Linked DNA regions of Homo sapiens: region 2 is linked to region 1. Evidence: fine-mapped expression QTL. A gene starts in region 1. The other region holds a variant in brackets. All regions are shown on one strand. Distances are between the middles of the regions. Region 1 holds the start of ZNF880 (zinc finger protein 880). Region 2 overlaps ZNF528-AS1 (ZNF528 antisense RNA 1).

Region 1 (2,913 bases):
GGATTAAAATCAAGAAACTGTCGCACATGTATCCCCATAACAGGTTACTATCCTTACAGCCATAGACTCACTATCATAACAGTGTAGAACAATTTTAAGGTCATGAAAATATATAAGATGTAATTTCAACTGTTAAAAGATATAAGACGTATATAAACTGATGATGCGCCTTTGATAAAAACAATAGACTTGCTCATCTGTGCACTCATCCACACACATCACATGTACACACTTATTCATATACATATATACATTCACACACATATACTCTAGTAAACATATATGTGACAACTGAAAGAGTTGTCTGTCAATAACCTCTTTTTTAGATATTTGTCTTTGTTCGTTTTTTAATGTGTCCAGGTTGCAGTGCAGTGGCTTATTCATGGCACACTACAGCCTTGAATTCCTGGCCTCAAATGACACCCTCTCCGAGTAACTCGAATGACAAGCGTGCACCACTGTGCCTGGCTGTCGTTGTTTTTGCAAATGTGCATTTCAGCATGTTTGCAACAATAAAAATGTATAAACTGTGCTCAATTCAGTTTATAAACATTATTTCAAACTATTTCAAAAAGTCAGACCATGTAAAAACATAGAAACGAGAATTCCAATCTCTATTAAATACCCGTACTGAAACATATGTTTCAAAAATTGAGATGGGGGTCTCACTATGTTGTCCAGAGTGGTCTCAAACTCCTGTGCTCAAGGAATTCTCCAGCCTGGGCCTCCGGAGAAGATGGAATTCCAGCCCCGGCCCATAAATATTAGGTTGGTGCAAAAGTGATCGCGGTTTGCCATTACTTTTGCACTAACCTAATTTTGTCCACTAAATATTTATTTAGGTGTTAGCAAAAGCCCAATGGAGGCTGAAACATCACAATCAGCAGTAAACATCAGATCGATTTCCTCTCATTTAAGGCACAGAAAAGGGGGCAGGCCTGTGAAAAGAGGGCGAGGCTTGGGGGACCGGAAAGACGTGGATCCATCTCGCGGGTGAGAACTTTACGCAGCGCGGGCCGTGTCTAGGGGTCACTGAAGGATTTGAAGCAGGCAAACTCCGCGACAGGAGCTGTCTACATGGCCCTGTGGTGAAAGACCGGGGACAGGACCAGCCTCCGAGCGATTTTAACACTCAGGGAAGCGACCGCCAGACTCTCATTAGAACGTCTGAGTTTAGTCGGGGTGGAGGGAGCGATGCGGGGATTTCAAGGTCTGTGTGACCCCTGAGATGCCGGGTACAGAAGCGCGAGGGGACTCAGCATCCCAGATTTAATCTAAACAAAGGGAAACTCACACGCCGCAGCATGACCGTCACTCCACGTAATCTGCTTCCGGGTCTCCAGGAAACTGCGCGCGCAGCTGAGAGGCGAGGCGAGGCCAGGCCCGGGTGGGATTGGGCGGAGCCTGCGCTTCCCTCCGCCTCGCTCCCAGCTCGTCTCGTTTTGGAGGCTAGACCTGCCGTGGAGACTGGAAGAACTCAGCTATCTGGAAATAGATTGTGTCCCGGCAGAGGGAAAGTTTGTTGATGATTAGATCCAGGAAAATTCCTGCTATTAAAATTAATTTTAAATCGGCTGTAGGGGCGCTCGCATGTGGTCCTAGCTACCCGGATGCTGAGGTGGGAGGATCGCTTGAGCCCATGAGGTGGAGGCTGCAGTGAGCCGAGGTCGTGCGCTGCACTCCCGCCTGGGCATGAGAGAGAAACCTTGCGCCTAATAAATACATAATCATAAATAACAAATTGGAAATAAATAATTAAAATAAATAAATATAAATGAATAATAAACACTAGTTTCCGGAATTTTAAAGTCCTTGAATTGTTTATGAAGGGGATGCAAATTAAAATATGAAATGCAAAACCCTGCCAGGGCGGAATGTGCAATTTCCTTTTTTTTTTTTTTTTTTTTTTGGAGACAGAGTTTCGTTCTTTTGCCCAGGCTGGAGTGAAGTGGCGCGATCTCGGCTCACTGCAACCTCCGCCGCCTGGGTTCAAGCGATTCTCCTGCCTCAGTCTCCCGAGTAGCTGGGATTACAGGCGCCCACCACCACACCGGGCTACTTTTTTGTACTTTTAATAGAGACAGGGTTTCTCCATGTTGGCCAGGCTGGTCTTGAACTCCTGACCTCGTGATCCGCCTGCCTTGGCCTCCCAAAATGTTGGGATTACAGGCGTGAGCCACCGCACCCGGCCAAGTTTTTTTTTTTTTTTCATATTTATATTAATCCTAGTGTATACCTGCCATTGTCTTATGGACATACTCAGGTCACAACTTTTTTTTTTTTTTTTTTTTTTTTTTTGAGATGGTCTCCCTCTGTCTTTCAGGCTGAAGTGCAGACAGCTCACTGACTGCAGCCTCGACCTCCTGGCATCAAGTGATCCTCCCATCTCAGCCTCCCAAGTAGCTGGGACTACAGGCACACGCCACAATGCCCAGTCCCATGTCACAAAATTTTGTCTCCAAACAGCACTCATTTATTTGTCCCCTAAAGTTTTCACCAGAGCAAAACAGGGAAGAAATGTATTAAACATAGAATTTGGAGGCAATGTAGGAAAAAAATGTAAAAATATATATACATACAAAAAATATAAAAATATACATGCTAGGTGTGAATTGTAACTAAGTTTCCAGTATGGGTAGTGGGTATCCCCGCCCCAGCCCTACCCTTTAGCAATCATGACACCCCAAGCCAGTCACCTATCCCAGTTCTCTGAAGCCACTTTTGGACCAGCTGGAAAAGTATACCCTGCTTTCCCCCACAGAGCCTCATTATATAATAAACACTCTCAAACCATATCAGTGTATGGGATCATCATTCTCAAGATCCAAGCCAAACCTTAGGGGGACTTCAAACAAGTTCCAGAAGAGTGGTCAAAAATTCAAATTACCAAAAGAGTTGTGAGGGTGACTATAT
Region 2 (2,913 bases), 21 kb before region 1:
CCATTAATTTATTAGGAATGCTCTTCCATCTGGCTGTTGATCTGTGTCCTGTGTAACATCCTTTATAACAAATGGTACACCTCAGTAAATTGTTTCTCCAAGTTGTGTAAATCACTCTAGCAATAGCAAATTCTGGGGGCAGTTTTGTGCAACTGAGCCCTCAGCCTCCTGTGAGATCTAATGCTAACTCCCTATAAATGGTGTCAAATTGAGTTCAATTAGAGAACACCCAGTTTTTATCTGATGAAAAATAGCTTGTTGGTGGGAAGTAATCCCCACACATTTTGATGACCGGAGATGAGGCATTCTGTGTTGAGCATTCACTATTGTGTTGATTGTGAGTAGAAAAAACACTTTGGTTTTTCCTCCTATCTTATACACTCACACACCCTACCCCATCCCAGAAGTGAAGATAGTGACCCATACCTGAATGAGTCAAGTCACTGCCTGCCGTCTGGCAGAATAAGGACAGCAAATGGAAGCTAACCTCTGATACCAAGAATTAGGAAATGCACATGCCTTATAGACAGTTTTCCAATTCTCATCTTCATCTGTATATTTTAAACAAATGTGATGTTTATTATAGAGAAATTAATCATAATATCCAATCAATTCATCATTCATCTGGATTGAGTGTCCCCCTCTTTCCTCATTACTGTGTGTTTCTCTACCTACCTCTCATTCTCACCTTCTTTTCCTAGCTTTTTTTTTCTCTTTATTTTTCCCCTAGGATTCTCCTCATTTCAAGCCCTTCTTCCTTCTCCTGCTCTTCCCTCTATTCCTTCTCTTCCACTTGTTCTGCTCCTTTCTCACTTCTTTCACCTCTTATTCTTCTTTCTGCCCAATATTTGTCTCCAATTTTCATATAGTTCTGCCTCTTTCTTCCCCCCGTCTCTGCTGCCCCCTAGCTTCCCCTGTTAAATCCCCTCTTCCCTGCTATATCCACCTGTCCCCTCTCTGGCATCCCCAGATCCCAGTTCTCCCCAGGCTGTGGTTCTCCCTGTGCTCTCCTTATCACTGGCTGCCCCTCTTGCTCTCCCAGCACCATGCTGCTCTGTCTGCCCTGGCTCCAAATCCCTCCTTCTCTCCCCAACTCTCCATCTGAGGAGCCTCCCCTTTTCTGCCCCTCTCCCTATCTTGCTGAACTTTATCTCTCTAGAAACCCAGTTTTTCTCTAAATTTCTCTAGTTGCTTTTCTCCCCCTGCTCCTTTCTCAGCATCTTCATGCACTGTCTCTGCAAATCCCTCATCCACCATCTACTTTGCCATCTGTTTTGTTTTGTTTTTTGTTTTTTGAGATGGAGTTTTGCTCGTCGCCCAGGCTGGAGTGCAATGGTGCGATCTTGGCTCACCGCAACCTCCGCCTCCCGGGTAAAAGCGATTCTCCTGCCTCAGTCTCCAGAGTAGCTGGGATTACAGGCATTCGCCACCATGCCTGGCTAATTTTGTATTTTTTAGAGACAGGGTTTCTCCATGTTGGTCAGGCTGGTCTCAAAACTCCTGACCTCAGGTGATCTGCCC[G/A]CCTCAGCCTCCCAAAGTGCTGGAATTACAGGCGTGAGCCATCGCACCCAGCTGCCGTCTGTTTATGGGTCTCCTTCATTCTTCTTTCCCATTTCACCATTTTTCTATTTCCTCTCCTCCACACATTCATAGGGAGGGGACTGCAGTCAGATCCCCACCTCAAGAGCCCATTTCCTGTGGGATGGAATTTGGGACAAGAGAAACCTTAACGTCCTGAGATAGAAGTCACGTCCCCACACTCGATATCAGGAGAAGGGGAGGCCTGGGGAGCAGAAGGGCCCCCGATCAAGGAGGAAAAAGGCAGGAGAAAGTCAGGAGAGGGGCAGGGTCTGCAGGATCCCAGGACCAGGAAGAGTTCACGGCCTCCCTGGGACTGGGGCTGCGTCGCTGCGCTCCAGGAGCTGACGAGGGAGCGGAGCAGATGGGAAGCTCCCAGGGCGGGAATCAACCTTGCGGTGAGGACTTTAAAAAAGGTGCGGGCCAGTGCAGGGGACACTGAAGGATTTGAGGCAGGAAAACTCCGCGATAAGAGCTGTCTATATGGCCCTGTGGCAGAAGCACGGGGGACACGACCCCATGGAACTGTGTCCATTAAACCTCTTTGTCTTCATAAATTACCCAGTCTCGGGTATTTCTTTATTAGCAGCGTGAGAACAGACTAATACAGTAAATTGGTAATGGTATAGAGTGGGGTGCTGCTATAAGGATACCTCAAAATGTGGAAGCAAATTTTGAACTGGGTAACAGGCAAAGGCTGGAACAGTTTGGAGGGCTCAAAAGAAGACAGGAAGACGTGGGAAAGTTTGGAGCTTCCTAGAAAATGGTTGTTGAATGGTTCTGACCAAAAAGTCCAGGCTGAAGGTGGTCTCAGATGGAGATGAGGAACTTTATTGGAACTGGAGCAGAGGTGAGCTGCAGGGGCGGAGCCCTCATGGAGAACCTCTGCTAGAGCAGTGCAGAAGTAAAATGTGGGGTTGGAGCCCCCACACAGACTACTCACTACTCGCCTAGTGCAGCCGTGAGAAAAGGGCCACCCTCCTATAGACCCCAGAATGGTAGATTCACCGACAGCTTGCACCATGTGCCTGGAAAAGTAGCAGACACAACACCAGCCTGTGAAAGCAGCCAGGAGAGGAGCTGTACCCTGCAAAGTCACAGGGGCAGACATGGGTTCCCTGCAAGACCACTGGAACCAACCTCTTGCATAAGTGTGACCTGGATGTGAGACACGGAGTCAAAAGAGATCATTTTGGAGCTTTGACTGCCCTGCTGGATTTCAGACTGGCATGGGGCCTGTGACCTGTTTTGGCCAATTTCTCCCATTTGCAACGGGCGTTATTTATCCAATACCTGTGCCTCCATTGTACCTAGGAAATAACTAACTTGCTTTTT

What was found.
Region 2: its variant is fine-mapped to the expression of ZNF880 in caudate (GTEx, PIP above 0.99). The same link has a PIP of 0.9 or more in amygdala, anterior cingulate cortex, hypothalamus, nasal epithelium and visceral fat.

The regions. Positions count from the first base shown.
Region 1 is chr19:52,368,359-52,371,271 of GRCh38, reverse strand. ZNF880 (zinc finger protein 880) reads right to left here and starts at 1,349. Exons shown (of 4, transcript NM_001145434.2): 1 at 1,295-1,349. The coding sequence starts at 1,306. RefSeq lists enhancers at 908-1,047, 1,248-1,357, 1,368-1,667.
Region 2 is chr19:52,389,313-52,392,225 of GRCh38, reverse strand. The region is part of intron 6 of ZNF528-AS1 (ZNF528 antisense RNA 1); the gene reads left to right. It also overlaps a transcript of ZNF880 not described here. Among named protein-coding and RNA genes, the nearest start is that of ZNF528-AS1, 7.0 kb to the left of the region's middle. The variant G/A (reference allele first, on the strand shown) is at 1,522.